Homo sapiens: one gene and its partners. The protein of the gene in region 1 interacts with the protein of each later gene in a pairwise test. Each region holds a gene or a part of one and is shown in the gene's direction. Other genes may lie near its edges.

Evidence for each region. Proteins that work in one complex are often made in the same cells at the same time.
Region 2: the proteins of GSK3A (region 1) and GSKIP interact in binary tests that used the Homo sapiens proteins (3 or more experiments, as listed by UniProt).
Region 3: the proteins of GSK3A (region 1) and DEAF1 interact in binary tests that used the Homo sapiens proteins (3 or more experiments, as listed by UniProt).

Annotation. Positions count from the first base shown.
Region 1 is NC_000019.10:42,232,599-42,239,633, reverse strand, and holds part of GSK3A (glycogen synthase kinase-3 alpha), read left to right. Parts: intron 1-2,692; coding exon 2,693-2,776; intron 2,777-2,917; coding exon 2,918-3,028; intron 3,029-4,955; coding exon 4,956-5,086; intron 5,087-5,174; coding exon 5,175-5,281; intron 5,282-6,250; coding exon 6,251-6,348; intron 6,349-6,428; coding exon 6,429-6,524; intron 6,525-6,951; coding exon 6,952-7,035. UniProt on the Homo sapiens protein: Constitutively active protein kinase that acts as a negative regulator in the hormonal control of glucose homeostasis, Wnt signaling and regulation of transcription factors and microtubules, by phosphorylating and inactivating glycogen synthase (GYS1 or GYS2), CTNNB1/beta-catenin, APC and AXIN1.
Region 2 is NC_000014.9:96,358,867-96,366,525, forward strand, and holds the start of GSKIP (GSK3B-interacting protein), read left to right. Parts: upstream 1-4,659; 5' UTR 4,660-4,702; intron 4,703-5,869; exon of another isoform or gene 5,870-6,400; intron 6,401-7,659. Other genes in the region: ATG2B (autophagy-related protein 2 homolog B), read right to left, coding at 3,949-4,110. UniProt on the Homo sapiens protein: A-kinase anchoring protein for GSK3B and PKA that regulates or facilitates their kinase activity towards their targets.
Region 3 is NC_000011.10:643,733-650,257, reverse strand, and holds the end of DEAF1 (deformed epidermal autoregulatory factor 1 homolog), read left to right. Parts: intron 1-3,702; coding exon of another isoform or gene 3,703-3,729; exon of another isoform or gene 3,730-3,926; intron 3,927-5,603; coding exon 5,604-5,708; 3' UTR 5,709-6,025; downstream 6,026-6,525. UniProt on the Homo sapiens protein: Transcription factor that binds to sequence with multiple copies of 5'-TTC[CG]G-3' present in its own promoter and that of the HNRPA2B1 gene. Down-regulates transcription of these genes.

The DNA of each region.
Region 1 (7,035 bases):
AGGATTGCCTGAGGTCATAGAGCAAGTGCCCCAGTCAAGGCTGGAATCTGATTCCCAAACCCTCTACCTTAACCATTTGGTTACACTTCTTCCCAGGAGAGAAAGGGACCTGGCAGGGCTAGCGCGGGTGGTTCTGAAGGTCGCGCTCTTCCCAGGTGTTTGGCCAGCGCAGAATGGAATGGAGGTGCCCTGTGAGCTAGGAGAGGCTCAGGGAACTAGAAGGAGATGGAGGAAGTGGAAGTTGAGGAATAATTGGTGTTTAAGGGCCTGGCATTTGGAGCTTAGACTAGTCTGGATGTAGGAGAACTGAGCCTAGACTGGAAAGGAACCAGACCAGGGCCTCGGTCTTGGCAGGGAGGGCCCTTGGGCAGGAGGAGCTCCAGGGTGTCAGAATTTGATTGGAGTTGAGTTCCAGAAGTAAGAGGGATGTAGGGGCAGGGAGTTCCTAGGCCTCACTGAGGAATAGAGAATGGGGAAGAATGCTGAGACCGCATTCTGGGAAAAGTCCAATGCCTGGAGTCTGGGACTCAGGATCCTAGATAGAGTTCGAGGACCCAGATGCTTCCACGGGACCAGAGTGAGCTGGATGGCCACTACCTGTCTGTTGTTGCTTGTGCCAGGTAGGGGGGCAAGCCTCATGTGCCCATGCCTGATTTTTTTTTTTTGAGATGGAGTCTTACTCTGTCACCCAGGCTGGAGTGCAGTGGCACGATCTTGGCCCGCTACAACCTCTGCCTCCCAGGTTCAAGCGATTCTTGTGCCTCAACCACCTGAGTAGCTGGGATTGCAGGCATGGGCCACTATGCCTGGCTAATTTTTTTTTTTTGTATTTTTAGTAGAGACAGGGTTTTGCCATGTTGGCCAGGCTGGTCTCGAACTCCTGACCTCAAGTAATCCGCCCCCACCTCGACCTCCCAAAGTGCTGGTATTACAGGCATGAGCCAGCATACCTAGCCCTGATTTTTCAAGACAAACTGAAAACTGGATTTAGATGTGAAATCTTTTTTTTTTTTTTTTTTTTTTTTTTGAGACGGAGTCTCATGCTGTCACCCAGGCTGGAGTGTGGTGGCGTGATCTCGGGTCACTGCAACCTCCGCCTGCCGGGTTCAAGCGATTCTTCTGCCTCAGCCTCCCTAGTAGCTGGGACTACAGGCGTGTGCCACCACTCTCGGCTAATTTTTTGTATTTCTAGTAGGGACGGGGTTTCACCGAGTTAGCCAGGATGGTCTCTATTTTTTTTTTTTTTTTTTTAAGACAGAATCTCGTTCTGTCACTAAGGCTGGAGTGCAGTGGTGTGATGTCGGCTCACTGCAACCTCTGCCTCCTGGGTTCAAGCGCTGCAACCTCTGCCTCCTGGGTTCAAGCAATTCTTGTACCTCATCCACCTGAGTAGTTGGAATCACAGGCGTGCGCCACCATGCCCAGCTAATTTTTTTGTATTTTTAGTAGAGATGGGGTTTTGCCACGTTGGCCAGGCTGGTCTCGAACTCCTGGCCTCAAGTGATTTCCCTGCCTTGGCCTCCCAAAGTGCTGGGATTACAGGGGTGAGCCACCATGCCCAGCTGTTTTTTATTTTATTTTTATTTTAAGGCTGGGTATGGTAGCTCATGCCTGTAATCCTTGAACTTGGAGAGCCCGAGGCAGGAGGATTGCCTGAGACTAGGAGTTCAAAACCAACCTGGCCAACATAGCCAGGTTCTTTTAAAAATAATAATAATAATAAATTTTATCTTATTTATTTATTTATTATTATTATTTTTTGAGACAGAGTCTGTCGCCCAGGCTGGAGTGCAGTGGCGCGATCTCAGCTCACTGCAAGCTCCGCCTCCTGGGTTCACGCCATTCTCCTGCCTCAGCCTCCCGAGTAGCTGGGACTACAGGTGCCTGCCACCATGCTTGGCTAATTTTTTTTGTATTTTTAGTAGAGACAGGGTTTCACCGTGTTAACCAGGATGGTCTCAATCTCCTGACTTCGTGATCCACCCACCTCAGCCTCCCAAAGTGCTGGGATTACAGGCGTGAGCCACCACGCCTGGCCCTGGCCTATCCTTTTTAAAACTTTATTTTGGAGAAAAAAATCAGAAGGTGCCATTTGGCTTTTACATGTCAGCAATAAGTTGAAAAAAAATTTTTTTTTAAGTGGGGTGGCTGGGCGCGGTGCCTCACGCCTGTAATCCCAGCACTTTGGGAGGCTGAGGCCTGTGGATCATGAGGTCAGGGAGGCTGAGGCAGGTGGATCACAAGGTCAGGAGATCGAGACCATCCTGGCTAACGTGGTGAAACCCCATCTCTACTAAAAATACAAAAATTAGCTGGGCGTGGTGGTGCATGCCTGTAATCCCAGCTACTTGGAAGGCTGAGGCAGGAGAATTGCTTGACCCAGGGAGGCAGAGGTTGCAGTGAGCCGATATTGAGCCACTGCATGCCAGCCTGGCAACAGAGCAAGACTCTGTCTCAAAAAAAAAAAAAAATGGGGTGAAGAAAACACATCTGTGGCCTGGGTTTAACCTGTGGGCTTCCAGCTCCTGTGGGAGGGGAATAGTCTGGAGACAAGGAATTGGGGGATACTCCAGGGGACCTTGGAGCTGGGACACAGGGAGTAGCTGCCTGGCTGTTGTTGGGAGTGAGTGTGAGTAGGGAGGAGCAGCCGAGAGAGTTGGTTGTATTCTGAGACTCTCCCTTTGCCCTCAAGAACCGAGAGCTGCAGATCATGCGTAAGCTGGACCACTGCAATATTGTGAGGCTGAGATACTTTTTCTACTCCAGTGGCGAGAAGGTGAGATCTCGAGGTGGTGGTGGTGGGTTGCTCCAGCCATTTTCCTGCCTGCCTGCCTTTCCCCCACTGCTCCCTGCATACCTTCCTTCCCCCTCCTCACTCTTCTCACAGTGCCTCACACCTCTCCTTTGCTCCCTGCAGAAAGACGAGCTTTACCTAAATCTGGTGCTGGAATATGTGCCCGAGACAGTGTACCGGGTGGCCCGCCACTTCACCAAGGCCAAGTTGACCATCCCTATCCTCTATGTCAAGGTAGGCCAGCAGGTGGGCTGCTGGGACCCAGGCCCACAAAGCCAGGGGCTCTGGAGCCTCCTGCCTTTTATGGGATCCCTCATCCGCCAAGTTTATGTTGGTTTTTGGAGGCCCCATGTCCCCTGCTGTTGTTCCCATAACCCCCCGAGATGGAGCTCGCCTAACACAGGGGAGGGCCAAGGCAGGCAAGGCCTGACTGAATCAGGAAGGCAGCCTGACACCTGGGGTTGCAGAAGCTGCCAGGTAGTTGCTCAGGTCCATACAGGGAGTCCAGTGGCACCAGAGATGTTGGAGTTAGCTCAGGATAAGGGGGTGGTGGGGACCAGGACTGCACAGAGACAGCTGCTGAGGCCAGAGTTCGGGCCTTTAGAGCCTTGGCTGGGGGTAGGTGGGAAGGAGTTAGGGCTGGAGGAAGGTTAGCATCCACAGAGCCAGGAATGCATCTCCGTCCATCATCTGTGCAGGCTCATTCCCCAGTGCCTGGCATCGTGCCCTGGGTGTTACAGACCTTCAGGAGGTGTTTGAATGAATGAATGAATGATTGCAGCCCAGGGATGATGTGGCGAACAGGCTGGAGCAGCCTACTGCATTGGAAGGAGGTGGGTGGGTTTGTTTGCTGAAGGTCACTTGGGGCCCAGCTGCTGCTCCTGCTGGCTTTACGTACCAAGCACGGGTGAGCCGACGTGGGCTCTACCAGTGGTTGTGGCTGTTGGACCTCACTTCCCAGGAGGGGAGCTCTCTGGTTTGGCGAATCTGTCCTGTGGCTGCCTGCATACGGGTCCCAGGGCTGAGGAATTCCAGAGGCACCACTGACTGCGACCCAGGCCTTGGCCTTGAAGAGCTCTCAGTTTGGTAGGGTAGAAAGGCGTCATCACAGAAAACTATTAAATGAACTAGCTGCTGCCATACCAGAAGGAGCACAGGGAATTCTGGAAATGGAGGAAGCACCCAGCCTGGTTTGTGGGTGAGAAGGATCAAGGAAGGCTTCCTGGAGGAGACCAAGCACAGGGCAAGGAAGTGGCATCTTTGGCCGAGGGGAACTGGAATAAAAGGAAGGGGGCCTAGGAAGCAGCCATGTCAGGACCTGGTCTGTCTAGGCCCTGGGGGATGCAGCAGTAACTGAAACTCAAAATCCTGCTCTCACGGTACTTCTGTTCTAGTCAGTGGGAGGGAGAGTGGCAGGAAAATGGAGCTGGAGAGGGGGCAGGCTCAGGGGTGGTTTTGATTGTCGGATTAAGGAGCCAGTGGTTTTGGTGAGGGGGAAGCTGAGTGCCTGGCTCCCTAGCCTGTTTTATGACAACCTCCCGATGTACCTTACTCATCAGGCTTCTGCCAAGGGTTGTGATTAAAGCAGTGGTTCTCAGAGTGTGGTCCGGGGACCAGCATCAGTGCTGGAGAGCTTGTTGCAAATGCCTCATTCAGAACTCACTGATCAGAAACTCTAAGAGTGGGGCCCAGCAGTCCCTTTTTTTTTGTTTTTTTTGAGACAGGGTCTCTGTCACCCACGCTGGAGTGCAGTGGTGCGATCTCGGCTCACTGCAACCTCCGCCTCCTGAGTTCAAGTGATTCTTCTGCCTCAGCCTCCCGAGTAGCTGGGATTACAGGTGTGCACCACCACGCCCGGCTAATTTTTGTATTTTTAGTAGAGACGGGATCTCAACATGTTGGCGAGGCTGGTCTTGGCCTCCCAAAATACCGGGATTACAGGCGTGACCCGCCACGCCCAGCCAGTAGTCCCTGTTTTAACAAGTCCTTCAAGTGATTGTGGTGCACATTAAGAGAACCAAGGTTTCAAATGGGTTTCCCCAAAGCTGTGGGGGCAGCAGGGAGAGTGGGCCTGGAAGGGCTCTTCAGGCCAAGCTGGTGGGGTAGTGGTGCTGTATGGGGAAAGCTGGGCTAAAGTTCTGCTATCCTGTGCCCGCCGCAGGTGTACATGTACCAGCTCTTCCGCAGCTTGGCCTACATCCACTCCCAGGGCGTGTGTCACCGCGACATCAAGCCCCAGAACCTGCTGGTGGACCCTGACACTGCTGTCCTCAAGCTCTGCGATTTTGGCAGGTGGGCCTGGGGCATGTTGGGTGGCTGAAGAGGCAGGGGGGACCCCAACCCTTGCCTCACGTGTACCCCTGCCCATCTCTTCCCACAGTGCAAAGCAGTTGGTCCGAGGGGAGCCCAATGTCTCCTACATCTGTTCTCGCTACTACCGGGCCCCAGAGCTCATCTTTGGAGCCACTGATTACACCTCATCCATCGGTCAGAGTTATGGGAGGGTGGCGGGGGGAGTGGCAATCTGGGAAGTTTTGGAGTTTTCTGTGTGCTGTATGCCAAGCTTGGTGATGAAAGCTTAACTTCTGTTCTTGTATCCAGTCCTCACAAACTTAGGAGGCTGATGCTGTTGAATGCTAATTTTACAGATGAGCTTAGAGCTGTGAGGCCGCCTGCCCGCACTGGCACCACTAGGACTGGGCAGGACTGGGATTTGAAAGCTGACCTGACTCCAGAGTCCATACCAGCTCTGGAACCTCCCTGTCAGCCCTCTGTTCTCAGCTAGGGGGAAGGGCTGCTGGAGACCTTGGGGGAACCGGGAAGCAAGGCTTTGCCACCATGAAGGTGCAACTTGCTCCCAGGGCCTCTGTGTCCTTCCCTGTTTGTGGGGACAACTGCCATTTTCCAGGCATGAGGGGAAGTCTGAATTGAGGGAATGGGCATGAGAGTTTGAAAGGGCACCTTCCACAGCAGCATGACGAACTGTGGAGTCCTTAGGTATGAACTCGTGCTGTGGGGGTCAAGGTACAAAGCAGGGAGGGGTGAGACTGCCACGCTGCAGCTCTTCTCATGGGCAGGAGAGAGGCTGGAACAAGAGGAAGGCAGTCCAGGATTTAAGGCTGTACCTTCCTGTGGCCCAAAGAACATGGGTGCCTGTTGGCAGGTTTGGGCCTAATTTGGTCTGTCGTCCAAGGCTAGCGGGAGAGAAGGAGCTCATTGGGGTCCTTAGCAGAGAGAGGAACTGAGGGCTGGAAACACACCTAGACTAGAGAGTACAGCAAAGGCAGGGTCAAGGTCGGGCCCATGTTTCTAAGCTGCATGTGACCTTGGGCCAGGTGCTTTGTCTTTGAGAAAACGGGGCTCCTGACACTCTTAGGATGGCCATGAGGAATAAAAGCATTGGGAGGTTGGTGGCCCTACTCGCCTAGCCCTGACGCTCCCTCCATTTCCCCTCAGATGTTTGGTCAGCTGGCTGTGTACTGGCAGAGCTCCTCTTGGGCCAGCCCATCTTCCCTGGGGACAGTGGGGTGGACCAGCTGGTGGAGATCATCAAGGTGAGGGGCGGGGCTGGGCTGGGCAGGGGGTGGGGCTGAGGGATGGGGCCCTTGTCTCAGACCCCTCCCTCTCTTTACAGGTGCTGGGAACACCAACCCGGGAACAAATCCGAGAGATGAACCCCAACTACACGGAGTTCAAGTTCCCTCAGATTAAAGCTCACCCCTGGACAAAGGTGGGGCAGGGCTAGGGGCTCAGGGCAGTATGGCTGAGAGCTGGTCCCCCTTGGAGGTCAACTGTTCTGTGGACCTAGCCTCAGAATCACGGCTTGGGAGGATTTGAAGAGTTATCCAGGGATCAATAACATCCATCCGCTTTCAAAGTTTATGGCATTTTAAAAGTTGAGAACCCACAAGTAAATTCAAGATTCCAATTTTTATGGAGGGTCAGCAGGGCTCATATAGTCCCAGACCTGGGCTGCCTGCTTACCCGATACAAACTGACCTCTCCTTAGTGGTTGGGCCTTAGTTTCTTCATTTGGAAGGTGGGGGTGTGGGAAGCAACCAGTCATAACTTGCCGCAGGCACTGTGGCAGTGAGATAACAGGAGTATGCCAGTGTCCAGGGCATCTCACCCTCATGAGCCCTGCACCCATCCCTCAGGTGTTCAAATCTCGAACGCCGCCAGAGGCCATCGCGCTCTGCTCTAGCCTGCTGGAGTACACCCCATCCTCAAGGCTCTCCCCA
Region 2 (7,659 bases), on another chromosome or scaffold:
AGAGCTTTTTATTCTTCTGTTTAAGGGTATTTTGCTTTCAATTATCATCAATGAGTTTCACGCATATAAACAGAAAAAGTGAAGGTAACACTCTAGTCTCCAGGTGACCTTTGACAAATAATCAGTAATCAATGTTTCTTGAACTGAAGATAATTTTATTAAACACCAAGAGAATATAAGCAGCAATCGAAACATTCTTAAACTGAAGTTAAAAGGCCTCAGTGGCCAGGCGTGGTGGCTCACGTCTGTAATCCCAGCACTTTGGGAGGCCGACATGGGCAGACTGCTTGAGTCCAGGAGTTCAAGACCAGCCTGGGCAACATGGCGAAATCCCGTCTCTACAAAAAATACAAAAAGTAGCCAGGTGTGGTGGCATGCACCTGTAGTCCCAGCTACTGCAGGGAGGGGAGGAGAGGTAGGAGGATCGCTTGAGCCTAGCAGGTTGAGGCTGCAGTAAGCCTAGATCACGCCACTGCACTCCAGTCTGGGTGACAGAGTGAGACCCTGTCTCAAAAAAAAAATAAAATAAAAGGCCTCAGTGTAATAAATTGTTAATGTGTATCTTCTTGAGCTCCTGTAAGAAAAGGGTCTTTGTTTAGTTCACTGCTATATCCCCCAGCCCCTCACAGTGGCACATGCTAAGAGCTCAATAAATGTACTGAATCGATTAATGAAAGAAATTCCATTTAAAAATCAAAAATAAAGGCACAGTCATAGAGTTAAAAAGGAATGAGTCATTAAATCCAACTTCCCACCCCAAATAGAATTTCCTCCTTTCAACATTTTGCCATTTCAACCACTTCTAGGGACAAGGAGTTTATGAAATTTTTAGACAGTCTATTCCAATGATGGAACAATCCCAAACCCCTTGCCTCTATTTCTCCCTCCACTTCATGCCACGTTTAAGGTAGTAATCTCCAAAACTGGATGCATATATCCTAAAGTATTATCAGATGATTCATAAGGATGTGAGAGGAAAATGAGACATTCTATATTAAATTTTCCAAATTTAGATTGAAAAGTTGTACTTATATTTAATATACAAATGGGCACTGGCACCTTCCTTCAAGCCACATATCAAACTGGTACAAAGAGAAAACTAGTAGTTCCACAACAGAGAAGGATTAAGAGTGGTGCCCTCAGTTGGATGTTCCTTCCACTTCTGCACACTGAAACATTTCCACATACATTCTATAGAATAAAACCAGACCTTTAAACAGTAGAATCTTTGTAAAGAGAAAGTGAATGGCAATTACCTTCTGGTTTCCTGGTTTCTCCTATGGCCAAGTGTTTAAGGGTTGGATTTAAAGATAAGCATTTTCCTTTTACACAGAGAAGAATTCTCCACTGACTATTTATGTATTTATGACAATGACTATCAGTAGTACATGCTACCTAGCAGATATTTTCCAAAAAACAAAACATACTTAATCTGTCTTTTCAAAATAAAGATAGCACTTTAATAATGAGTAAGAAAGCAACCACTTTTCAAAGACTACTTGTACTATGAGGAGAACATTTGAAAAACTGTATTTGGAAATGTTTCCATTGTTCCATGATTTTGTTGCTGAAAACAATGTCTATTAAAAACATTGCTTATTTTTTAAGTCATTATCTATATAGTTTACAAAATGTTTAAAAACATGAAAAGACTATTCCAACCAATCTAAGTCTTCTGAACAAAGAGCTTGAAAAACTGAATTTTAAACCTAATTGTGTGTATATATGCAATGTCAATTAGCCATAATAGAAAAACTAATTGAGATCAGGAATGAAAGGAATGTCATTGCTGAGTTCAACAAAATTCTTTGCATAATTGATCATTTAGAATTGAAACAGTAGGAGTACAGCAATTCTTCAATTAGCATCAGTTTTTCCATTAGGATCTGTGAATCTCCGAAGGTACCTTTTTTTCAGTCATGTAAGTCATTAAAATCAAGTATCTGGCTGGGTCCTATGGCTCATGCCTGTAATCTGAGCACTTGGGAGGCAGAAGTGGGAGGACCACTTGAAACCAGGAGTTCAAGACCAGCTTTGGCAACAAAGCAAGAGAATGAATCCTCTACCAAAAAAAAAAAAAAAAAAAAATCAAGTGTGAAAATAAACTGAATTTGGAATCAGAACTCTGAACAGCTGTATCTAAGGGTCACACTAAGATTTATCCTAACCATCAACACAGCACATGAAAATAAATCAGCAACAGCAAATGTTTACTGGATGCTTTGACATTATCATTTTAGTTTACAAAACCCGCCCATCAAGAACAAAACATCATCCTCAGATTAAGTTTAGTAATAAATCATTTTGCCAATGATTCTGAACTCAAACTATAAAATTCAAATATCACTACCTCTGATTTCCCATAAGGACTAAATAAAACCTCACAAATGAAAGTGCCTAGTACAATGCCTGACATAAATACATACTCAATAAACATTAACTGCCTTTCTTTTGATCTTAGGCCATGTGATGTAATACTTGCTAGATGTGTGATGGGGCAAACTGCTTAACTCCATCTGTAAAATGGAAATATTAATGCCCACCTTATAGGGTTAAAGTCATTAAAGGATAATGCATACAAAGCCCTTCCACCCACAAAAGGCATTAATAAATCCTGAACCCTCTTTTTTCAAGATAACCTATTCATAACTGTATCAAAAGTATAGAATCATGGGTTGTTGAATTCAAAAATATCCTTCAGAATCCCTATCTTTTGGAAGAATTACAGGAATACAATACCATAAGACGGACGACACAGAGATGAAGTGTGTGCTCCATTAGTGTTTACTGAACTCAGGTGAATTGCTAAGTCCATTATCACTCGGCTAATTGTGGCGGTCTGGAGAGTCTCTCCAGGGGTAGGACTCTCACCTCCTGGTGAGCGACTGGGTCTTACTGCTCTCAAACCAGGGCTCTTTCCACTATCTTGTGTCCTCTCCCTAGTTTATGTCAGGTACATACTGATAAAATTATATACTGATTTATAGTCTCTAGCACAAATTCGCTTAAGGGTCATAATAAGGTATTTCCATAATTTAAGATTTTCTGTGGCTAAGGAAGTAAGGGTTGGGCAAAGGGTAGAAGTCACTCTATTCCTGTCAAACCCAAAAGTGAATATACTTTAAGTAAAATGCTATGCATTGAACACACAAATGCAGGTACGACTGCATGTGGTGAGTCGAAATTCAGATGAAGCACCTGTATAGCAATGAGTGAATTCACAGCCTCTAGATGACAAGTAGAAGGCAGGTTTTAAAATGTCTGAAAATTGCAACTTCAGCGCTTTTGCAACACCTGCTTTTACGATCTGTCACGTGGAGCAAAGAGGCATAACTCAACAGCACTACTAGGGCCAGACGACCATTCACAGGCTGGATACACAAACCTATCTTGTAAACATATAATCAAGCAAAAGCAGGCAAACCGGCACAAGAGGCCTTCACCTAACTTTCTTCCAGATGGCAAACGCTGCACGATGACAAACAAGGCAAACATGGTGCGCAAGCAGCCAACCCAAAACAAATAACTAGGGATTCTGACATCCAAAGGTCCTCTTCATCCTTAATCCTTCCAGAATGTCATCCCACAAGGCAGGGTTTGTTTGCCACAAAACCCTGCGGCCCCTCACATCCCGAGGGACAGTTCTGGTCACCTCCTCCCACGGACCTATTGAGCCTGCTTCACAGACCCCCGAAGCACTGACTCAATTATTCCCACAGTGTAGATTCCATTACATCTGTTAAAGTTTCCGGAACACGTGATTTAGGAGAGCAAACTTGTTAGAAACAGATTAAACAACACTCTAACACATTTCTCTGAGCCGTGTCACACTCGGGTCCAAACAATTCCCAAGGAGGGACTGACTGTCACCAATCTTGGATGGCACTGGTTCAAAGCGCCCTAAAGAGGGGAGCGAGCCCCGCCCGGCTCGCCGCCGGCAGCTCTTACCCATTTGTCCAAGGGGACCTGGGCGAGGGACCCGGTGCCTTGGTACAGGTCCAGGCTGAGCTGCTCCAGGCTCAGCTTCTCCTGCAGAAAGTGGCCCAGGTACCTCTGCAGGAGGTACCGGCAGGCCCTCTTCTTGATGGACTCCGAAAACGGCCAAGGCATAGTGACTGCTGGCAGCTGGGCTGACTGCGGCTGCGGGTTGCGACGGCTCCGGCCTCGGGGTAGCGACTCCGGCTCCAGGCCGCGGCGGGGCCTAAGCCTGGGGCGGCCCCTCCATCCCTATTTGGTGCCGGGAGTCCCTCAGGGAGACCCCATCGCCGGCGCCGCACCGCTCGCGCTGGGCCTGGCGGAGGCAAGACGCAGAGGGGTCCTCCTGGCCCCAGGCCAGGGGACTTCCGAGGAGGGTCCCAACCGGCTCGGAGAGAGTGCAAGAGAGCGCGAGAGGAGGCGGCAGGGGCTGAGGCAGCCACCGCCACTGCCGCCGCGCGACGAATTTGTTGTCATCCGCGAGGCGCGTTCCCGGCTGTAGGGACGCTCCTGGCGCGTTCACGAGACCCAGACTCCCGGCGCGCCGCCGGGCGCTGGCGGAAGTGACGCCACACTGGGGCCGCGGAAGGCGGGCAGAAGGGCGGGGGCTGGAGCAGTTCCGGCTCCGAGGGGGCGGGGCGGAAGAAGGCGGGGAGGGAGGGGGCGGCACCGCCGGTCGGCTCCAGTCGCCTCCGGAGGAAGGAAGAAGAGGACGCCGGGCGCGCAGGTGAGCGGCAGCCGGGGTGGCTGCGGGCGAGGGGCGGCCCCCGAGAAGGGCTAGGGGCTCGGGGCGCCGGCGGGCCGTCAGGCCTTCCGGATGGGGACGCGACGCCATGCAGCTGGCTGGGCCGAGAGGGGCGGCAGGCTGCAGGGGCCCCGCGCCCGTGTTAAGAGGGGTCTGGGGGCCGGTCTGGCCGGCCTGGCTCTCCCGGCTCCCCTCAGACCTCGGCGCCCCGGAAACGCACACTTGGGGCTCCGCCGTCTCCGCTGGGAGGACTGGAGCCCTTCTCGAGCATCCCCGCCCGCACCCGAGCATTGACCGGTGCCCATTGTCAGCAAGTTCTTCGGCCCCCGCCTCATTCAGGTATTGTTTCTGAGGCAGCTTCTTCGTTGCCGTTTGCCTGGCGGTTTGCAGAGCGCTTCTCGCATACGCTCGCTTAATCCTGGGTGTGTCATAGCAACGATCAGGAAACTTGGGTTTTCGAAGCATCTGTGGGCAAAACTGCATTCCTTGAGAAATGCTAAAGGCTCCTGACCCCGCCGGAACCTGGGTGAAGAACTTGGGCTGTTCTGGCAGTCTGCGCAATCGTATTTCTGCCTTTTGGGAGGTAACTCCTGCAGAGGCGGAGCCGGCTGTTAAGTTAAGTCAACCTCGAAAGGCCTGGGTGCGGGTGTTCTATGGCCCAGAAGCCAGATGTCCTTCGTTAGAATCCCGGCACTGACACCTATTAGCCGCCCAGCCACTTTGAGCGGCCACTGCCCTCCCCGAGCCCACGTTGCCTCCTTTGCCGAGTGTGAGCGGATTAAAATCTTATGTGCATGGATTTGTTGGGAAGATTAAATGATATGAGTAGGGCACGAACCTGAACAGAGTCCTGAAACATACAGCTGTTTAATCACAGTGAATTAAGACGACCAGTTTAAGGAGTGAAATGTTTACTGTCTCGGCAACTTTCATGAATGCCTTGGAAATACAGCCCAAAATATTGGTAGATGGAGAAACATCTGGTTCCCCTTTCCACAACCACCTTTTCGTTTTAGAACCAGGGTACTTTGTATGCAGTTGCTTGGATTGTTGATTTCCCTCATTCTTTGTAGACTCATCTCAAGTATTCTCAGTAACTTAGATTCCCTTGCTCTTCATTCAGAAATATTTGTTAAGGTCCATTAAATGAAAGTCACCACAGTTGATCATGTGAACAGTGTCAAGAATCAGGCCGAACCTTCAAGGAGTTTATGTTCTAAAACGGAAGCATGGTGGTACCTGCTTGTGGAGGCTGAGGCGGAAGGATCGCTTGAGCCCAGGACTTTGAGGCTGCATAATTGCATTGACGCTATCCATAGAGTGCCTGCAATTTCAAATATCAGAAAGGATCGTACGAGCTATGATCATGCCACTGCACTCCAGCCTGAACCACAGAGCAAGACCCTTTCTCTCAATAAAGTGGAAGTTTGTTCATTTATTCAGTAAATATTTATTGATTGCCTTCTGTGTGCCAAGCACTGTTCTAGGTACTGGGATTACAGCAGTGAACAGATAAATCTCTTCCTTCCTGGAACTTACATTTTATTGAAGGGAGGAGACATACAATAAATGAGTGAATAATATGCTTTGTGGTGATAAGGGCTGTTGGAAAAACGAAAGCAATGTAAAGGGAGTGGAGATGGGGAAGAGAGAAGGGACTTGCCATTTTTATATGAGATGGTAAGAGAAATTCTCTTGTTTAATAAGATTACATTTTAGCAGAAACTTGGAGAAAGCTGGGAAGTGAGGCACATGTATACCTGGAAGAGTTGTTTTCCATGCAAGGGGAACAGCAAGTGCAACGCCCTGTCACGGGAGAATGCTTGATGAATTTAGGGAACATCAAGAGTGAGTGAAGGAAAAAGTAGAAGCTGGGCAGTTTGGGGGTGGGGGGTGGGGCGGGCGGGGCGCAGAGGAAGCACATCATGTAGGGCCTCGTAGGCCATTGATAAGAACTTTGGAGCCGGGCACAGTGGCTCACTCCTGTAATCCCAGAACTTTTGGGAGGCCGAGGTGGGCGGATCACTTGAGGTCAGGAGTTCAAGACTAGCATGGCCAACATGGTGAAACCCTGTCTTTACCAAAAATATATAAAAAATCAGTCAGGTGTGATGGCGTGCACCTGTAATCCCAGCTACTTGGGAGGCTGAGGCAGGAGAATTGCTTGAACCCGAGAGGCGGAGGTTGCAGTGAGCCGAGATTGTGCCACTGCACTCCAGCCTGGGCAACAGAGTGAGACTCTATCTTAAAAAAATAAAAAGAACTTTGGCCTTTACTCTGGGTGAGGTGGATTTAGGAGAGGAGTGACACAGTATGGCCTAAGTTTCTATGGGATCATGCTAACTGCTGTTAAGAATAGTCTGGTGTGGAAGTGGGAGGGCCAGAGTGAAAACAGCAGAACCAGTTAGAAGGATATCACCGTAATGCAAGGAAAAGATGACAGTGGTTTGGACCAAAGCGGTAGCGGTGAAAATGATTAGTTAGAAGCAGTTGGATTCTGGATATATTTTGAAGATAAGACATGTTTGTAAATAATAATTCTAATATTTGCCATAAAAGGAATACAAACAAGGTGGTATGAAAAGGCAAAGGTGGGATCTTGCAAGAAATTAGAATAGGCTTTGGAAGGTTTGAAATAGACTTCTGACAAATAGATACAATTTGGACTTCTTTCAGCAGTTATTAAATAAGTGGTTTCCTTTTTCAATATAGAATTGCATTCGGGCTATCCATAGAGTGCCTGCAATTTCAAATATCAGAAAGGAAAATTAAAACGACGGTTTTGCAATAACAAATATGCTCTATTCAGAGTATTGTGTGTTGCCTTGTAAACTTTATGCTTTCTAGGAGAAATTCAGTATAAATGTTAAGGTTTAGGACCTGTCATTATGATATCTTTGGCTACAGTAGGGTACAAACTCATCTCAAATCACAGTGCC
Region 3 (6,525 bases), on another chromosome or scaffold:
GGATTACAGGCTCCTGCCACCACACTCAGCTAATTTTTGTATTTTTAATAGAGACGGGTTTCACCATGTTGGCCAGGCTGGTCTCAAACTCCTGACCTCAAGAGATTCACCCGCCTCAGCCTCCCAAAGTGGTGGGATTACAGGTGTGAACCACCACACTAGTCTCTGCCTTTTGATTGGAGTGTTTAATCTACTTTTTTGTTTTGTTTTTGTTTTTGTTTTTGTTTTTGTTTTTTAGACAATCTCACTCTGTCGCCAGGCTGGAGTGCAATGGCACGATCTCAGCCCACTGCAACCTCAACGTCCCGGGTTCAAGTGATTTCCCTTCCTCAGCCTCCTGAGTAGCTGGGATTATAGGCATGAGCCACCACGTCCAACTAATTTTTGTGTTTTTAGTAGAGATGGGGTTTCTCCGTGTTGGCAAGGCTGGTCTCGAACTCCTGACCTCAGGTGATCCACTCGCCTCAGCCTCCCAAAGTTCTAAGATTACAGGTGTGAGCCACCGCACTGGAACTCGGCCTGTTTTGTTTTTTGAATTGAGACAGAGTATCACTTTGTTGCCCAGGCTGGAGTGCACTGGCGTAATCTCGGCTCACTGCAGCCTCCACCTCCTGGGTTTAAGGGATTCTCGTGCCTCATTCTCCCGAGTAACTGGGACTGCAGGAGTGTGCCATCAGACCCGGCTAATTTTTGTACTTTTAGTAGACACAGGGTTTCACCATGTTGGTCAGGCTGGTCTTGAGCTCCTGACCTCAAGTGATCCGCCCGCCTCGGCCTCCCAAACTGCTGGGATTATAGGTGTGAGCCACCACACCCAGCTGTTTTGTTTTTTTTTTTAAGTGGGGTCTCTCTCTGTCACCCAGGCCAGAGTGCAGTGGCACAATCTCAGCTCAGTGCAACCTCCGCTTCCCGGGTTCAAGCAATACTCCTCCTTCAGCCTCCCAAGTAACTGGGATTACAGGCACCCGCCACCATGCCCGTTTTTGTTGTTGTTGTTGTGTGTGTGTGTGATGGAGTCTCGCACGGTTGCCCAGGCTAGAGTGCAGTGGCGCAATCTCGGCTCACTGCAGCCTCTGCCTCCCGGGTTCAAGCGATTCTCCTGCCTCAGCCTCCCAAGTAGTTGGGATTACAGGCATGCACCACCATGCCAGGCTAATTTTTGTATTTTTCGTAGAGAGAGGGTTTTGCCATGTTGGCCAGGCTGGTCTTGAACTCCTGGGCTCAAGTAACCCTCCCACCTTGGCCTCCCAAAGTGCTGGGATTATAGGCATGAGCCACTGCGCAAAACCTAATCTCATGTTTAATGTAATTATCAATGTGAGTGGATTTGTGTTTATATTTGCAGTTTATGTTTCATGTTTTGCTCCTCTGTTCTTTCACTGCCTTCTTTTCTGTTAAATGTGTATTTTCTAGTTGTGTTTTCTAGTGTACCACTTCAATTCTTTTGTTGAACATTTTTAAACAGTATCTTTAAAGTTGTTATTTTCTTACTGCTATAGGTATTACAATATACATTTTAATTTATCTCAGTTTCAGTAGGAGGATAGAATTTCCTCAAGCAGGGAAAGTGTACTGCAGAGGCTGAGTGTATACATTCCTGGCAAACACTATTTGGGCCCCAATATAAGCACTTACTGAGCTCCTTTCACCTACAGAACGAACACATCCCGTTCTTTTAAAAGCTGCCTTCCAGCCGGACCTCCAGCCCAGGACACCCTGTCCTCAAGCCTCCCTCAGATCCTGTTCTTTAAAAAGCTGCCTTCAGCTGGGCACGGTGGCTCACGCCTGTAATCCCAGCACTTTGGGAGGCCGAGGCGGGCGGATCACGAGGTCAGGAGATCGAGACCATCCTGGCTAACATGGTGAAACCCCGTCTCTACTAAAAATACAAAAAAATTAGCTTGGCGTGGTGGTGGGCGCCTGTAGTCCCAGGTACTCGGGAGGCTGAGGCAGGAGAATGGCATGAACCCGGGAGGCGGAGCTTGCAGTGAGCCGAGATCGTGCCACAGCACTCCAGCCTGGGAGACAAAGGGAGACTCCGTCTCAAAAAAAAAAAAAAAAGGCAGTGATAATTTTAAAAATTAATTGTAGAGGACTTGGTATGTACACAAAAGTATACACGAGTTTATGCATGTTATGAAGCCCCAACAGGAATCCCCTGCTCCCAGCACCGCCTGGGTCAAGTCCACCCACCTGCTCCCAGCACCGCCTGGGTCAAGTCCACCCACCTGCTCCCAGCACCGCCTGGGTCAAGTCCACCCACCTGCTCCCAGCACCGCCTGGGTCAAGTCCACCCACCTGCTCCCAGCACCGCCTGGGTCAAGTCCACCCACCTGCTCCCAGCACCGCCTGGGTCAAGTCCACCCACCTGCTCCCAGCACCGCCTGGGTCAAGTCCACCCACCTGCTCCCAGCACCGCCTGGGTCAAGTCCACCCACCTGCTCCCAGCACTGCCTGGATTGAGTCACCTACGTGCTGTGGTGGCAACACTTTTCTTTTAATCCTTAACTTTGGAAAATGTGAGACGTGCACATGAGTTGGATCGCCCAGGAGAGGCCCGTCGCCCTCACCTGTATCAGCTGCTTTAGCGCCTGCCCTCCTGGCTTGTCCCCCTCTCTCTTTGGGCTGAGGGCTGAGCATTTTAAAGCAAGCCCCACGCATCATTATTTTCATTTGTGAGGCCTGGATCACTGTAAGTCAGATTTGGATTGTGTTTTAATTGGATTTTTAGTCACTGTTTTTATTTCATTACTTATTTTTGGTTTTTATTTGTTCGTTTGTTTTTGGTTTTGTTTCTGTTTTTGAGACAGGGTCTGGCTCTGTCACCCAGGCTGGAGTGCAGCGGCGCGATCTTGGCTCACTGCAACCTCCACTTCCCAGGTTCAAGCGATTCTCCTGCCTCAGCCTCCCTAGTAGCTGGGGATTACAGGCACCCGCCACCACGTCCGGCTAATTTTTGTATTTTTAGCAGAGACGGGGTTTCACCATGTTGTTCAGGCTGGTCTTGAACTCCTGACCTCATGATCTGCCTGCCTTGGCCTCCCAAAGTGCTGAGATTACTGGCATGAGCCACCGTACCCAGCCTATTTTAGGTTTTCTATAGACAGGGTCTCGCTTTGTCACCCAGGCTGCAGTCCAGTGGTGCCATCACGGCTCACTACAGCCTTGATCTCCTGGCTCAAGTGATCCTCCTGCCTCTGTCTCCCAAGTAGCTTGGACCACAGGCATGAGCCACCACACCCAGCTAATTTTAAAACATTTTTTTTTTTTTATAGAGATAGGGTTTTGCTATGTTGCTCAGGCTGGTCTCCAACCCCTGACCTCAAGTGACCTCAACCTCCCGAAGTCATTGTTTTTACAGTCTGTGATGTTGGCTTTTCTCATTTATTTGTATCAGGCACTTTCATTGTTAGCTTCTTGTGAATTTAACCATTTTTTTCCGTTTTTCAAAAACTGAAACGCTAACTTCTAATTCTGGCTTTTCAGATAATGATTTTTTTTTCAAAAGTGTTTTAGCATTATACTGTAAGAAGCATCACATTGATGTTTAAGATGGAAAAATTTGCTTTAAAAAAGAACTGAGTAGTTCTGATTTTAAAAGTCAACCCTGGGCCTTTGCCTCTTTGCTGGAAGAACCTGATGGAAGCTTCTGTAGCTCAGAGTCAACACTGATGTGCGCCCTCTCTCCCTCCATCTGCACAGGCCCCAGGGAGTGGCTCAAACCTGTAGACCAGAGAAGGAAGCATCTAGAACTCCTGGGGGCCTTGTCCGCCGCCCACATCCTCTCACGGGGGGCAGCTCCCATGAGGGGTGCAGGCCCCTCACCCCACACAGAGTCTCGGCAGGAACCGGAACCCTTCCTGGTTGCCCCAGAGTGGAGGCCCGGGAGGGGCGGGCGGTGGGTCTGCACCCGATGCTGCAGTTTGCTGATGTATGTGCTTTCATGCTATGTAGATTTATAGTCTATTACCAGGTAATTTTAATTTTTTTTTTTTTTTTTTTTTTGAGACGTAGTCTCACTCTGTCGCCCGGGCTGGAGTGCCGTGGCACAATCTTGGCTTACTGCAACCTCTGCCTCCCAGGTTCAAGTGATTCTTGTGCCTCAGCCTCCCAAGTAGCTGAGATTGCAGGTGCGCATGACCACAGGCGGCTAGTTTTTGTATTTTTAGTAGAGATGGGGTTTTGCCATGTTGGGCAGGCTGGTCTCGAGCTCCTGGCCTCAGGTGATCTGCCCACCTCGGCCTCCCAACATGATGGGATTACAGCCGTGAACCACTGCGCCCGGCCTAATTTTGCTCTTTTATTATAATCAGCTGGAATTCTGCTCTCTAGGGAATAACTCTGTCACCATTTGGAAGCATTTATTTCTGCTCTGTGTGTCATATACGTACCTATCACGCCCCCGTGCACGGAGCTGCCTCTGTCTGACGAGGCCGTCTCAGCTTCAGCACCTGGCGCTTCCTCTAGAGCTCTGCTCCATTCCGAGGTGCTCGACGTAGCAGGGAGGCAGAGCCTGGTTCTGTGTGCTGACCTCACAGGAGCTGTGGCTTCTCCCAGGCACCATCCCCCACCTCCTTTCTCTGCAGCCACGGGCTGGTTCCAGTTTGCTTTTTCATCTTTGCCATTAAAAACAGAACTGGGGCGGGGCGCAGTGGCTCACACCTGTCATCCCAGCACTTTGGGAGGCCGAGGCGGGCAGATCCCCTGAGGTCAGGAGTTCGAGACCAGCCTGACCAACATGGTGAAACCCTGTCTCTACTAAAAATGCAAAACATTAGCCAGGTGTGGTGGCGTGCACCTGTAATCCCAGCTGCTAGGGAGGCTGAGGCAAGAGAATTGCTTGAACCCAGGAGGCAGAGGTCGTGGTGAGCCGAGATTGCGCGTTACACTCCAGCCTGGGAAACAAGAGCGAAACTCTGTCCGAAAAACAACAAAAAAACCCCCACAGAACTTGATCGTAATTTACATATGTAATATTTACATATTTAAATGTTTTTCTGCATGTGTGATATTTTTTGTTTACATCCCTAACACAAAACAACTGGTTTGGAGAGTCTTACCCTGGTTTGTTGTTTGACTTTTTTTTTTTTTTTTTTTGATATGGAGTTGTTCTGTCACCCGGGCTGGAGTGCAGTGGCACCATCTCGGCTCCCTGCAACCTCTGCCTCCCAGGGCTGAGCAGTTCTCCTGCCTCAGCTTCCCGAGTAGCTGGGATTAGAGGTGCCTGCCACCATGCCCAGCTAATTTTTGTATTTTTAGTAGATACGGGGTTTCACCATGTTGGCCAGGCTGGTCTCGAACTCCTGACCTCAGGGGATCCACCCTCCTGGGCCTCCCAAAGTGTTGGGATTACAGGCGTGAGCCACCGTGCCCTGCCTGTTGTTTGCCTTTTGATCCAATTCCTCAAACCAAGAGAGTGTGGGGAAGGCTGTATTGGAGCAGAGCCCACCAGAGTTTGGGCGCACGGGGGCTGGGGAGGGCATTCTCAGCACCTCCAGGTGAGGTTACAGAGGGCTGCACCCTCTGGGGTCTGCCTTGGGGACCCTGCCCAGACCCTGCTCCACCCACTGACCCTGCTGACATGGGTGTGTCCTCCCTTCCAGGACTGGAAGGATCACCAGCACATATGCGGCCAGTCAGCAGCTGTCACCGTCCAGGCAGACGAAGTCCACGTGGCTGAAAGCGTGATGGAGAAGGTGACCGTGTGAGGCTCCATCGGCCGCCCTGGGAGCTGGGGCCCCTCGCACTCCTGTGAGGCTTTTGCAGGTCGAAGGCCCCCCTGAGGACTCTGGGGGGACGTTGAGAAGAGGGGTGTGGGAAGGTAAAGAAACTTGCTGGACAAGTCATTAACACACTTTAAGCGAATGGTGCCCTGGGAAGCGCACTCCCCCTGCCCGGGCCCCCTGCCCGCTCGCGGACAGATTTTTTATCCCTGGGATCATGAGCGTCCGGTCTTGCCCACAGGGCCTGTGCTGCGACGCACATACATACGTGTTGTGTCTGTCAATAAAGTGTAAATAAGGTCTCCCTGCCCCACACGGCCGGTTGCAGTGCCAGCCCTCGGGGGGGGGTTTCCTCCCCTTCCTCCTACTGCGCAGGTGGGAAAACCAAGCCCACCGCACCTCTGGTGCACGGGACAGCGCGGCCAGGCCGGAGCCTCCGGTGCACGGGGCAGCGCGGCCGGGCTGAAGCCCTGGCGTCTGGTGGCTCGTGTAGTCCAGGAGGTCTTCGTTCCTTCTGTTCCACGAGACCCTCGTGGCTGCTGGGAGGTGCAGCAGGCCTACGGCCCTTCCCGCCAGGTTTCGGGGCACATGGTGCCTCCTGTGCCCTGGCTGCTTGAGCGAGCCCGACGGTCCAGCACGGCCTGTTCAGTCCACGTGGACAGCTTGGTGGCCTCGGTCCAGGGATCCACACGCAGAGCCTCATGGCCTCCTGGTCTCCCCCTTGTTTCTCATGGCCCTGGCGCCAGGTGGAGGAGAAAGGGCTGAAGCCTGTGGGGGGCACAAGGGGGCGTGTCCAGCGTGT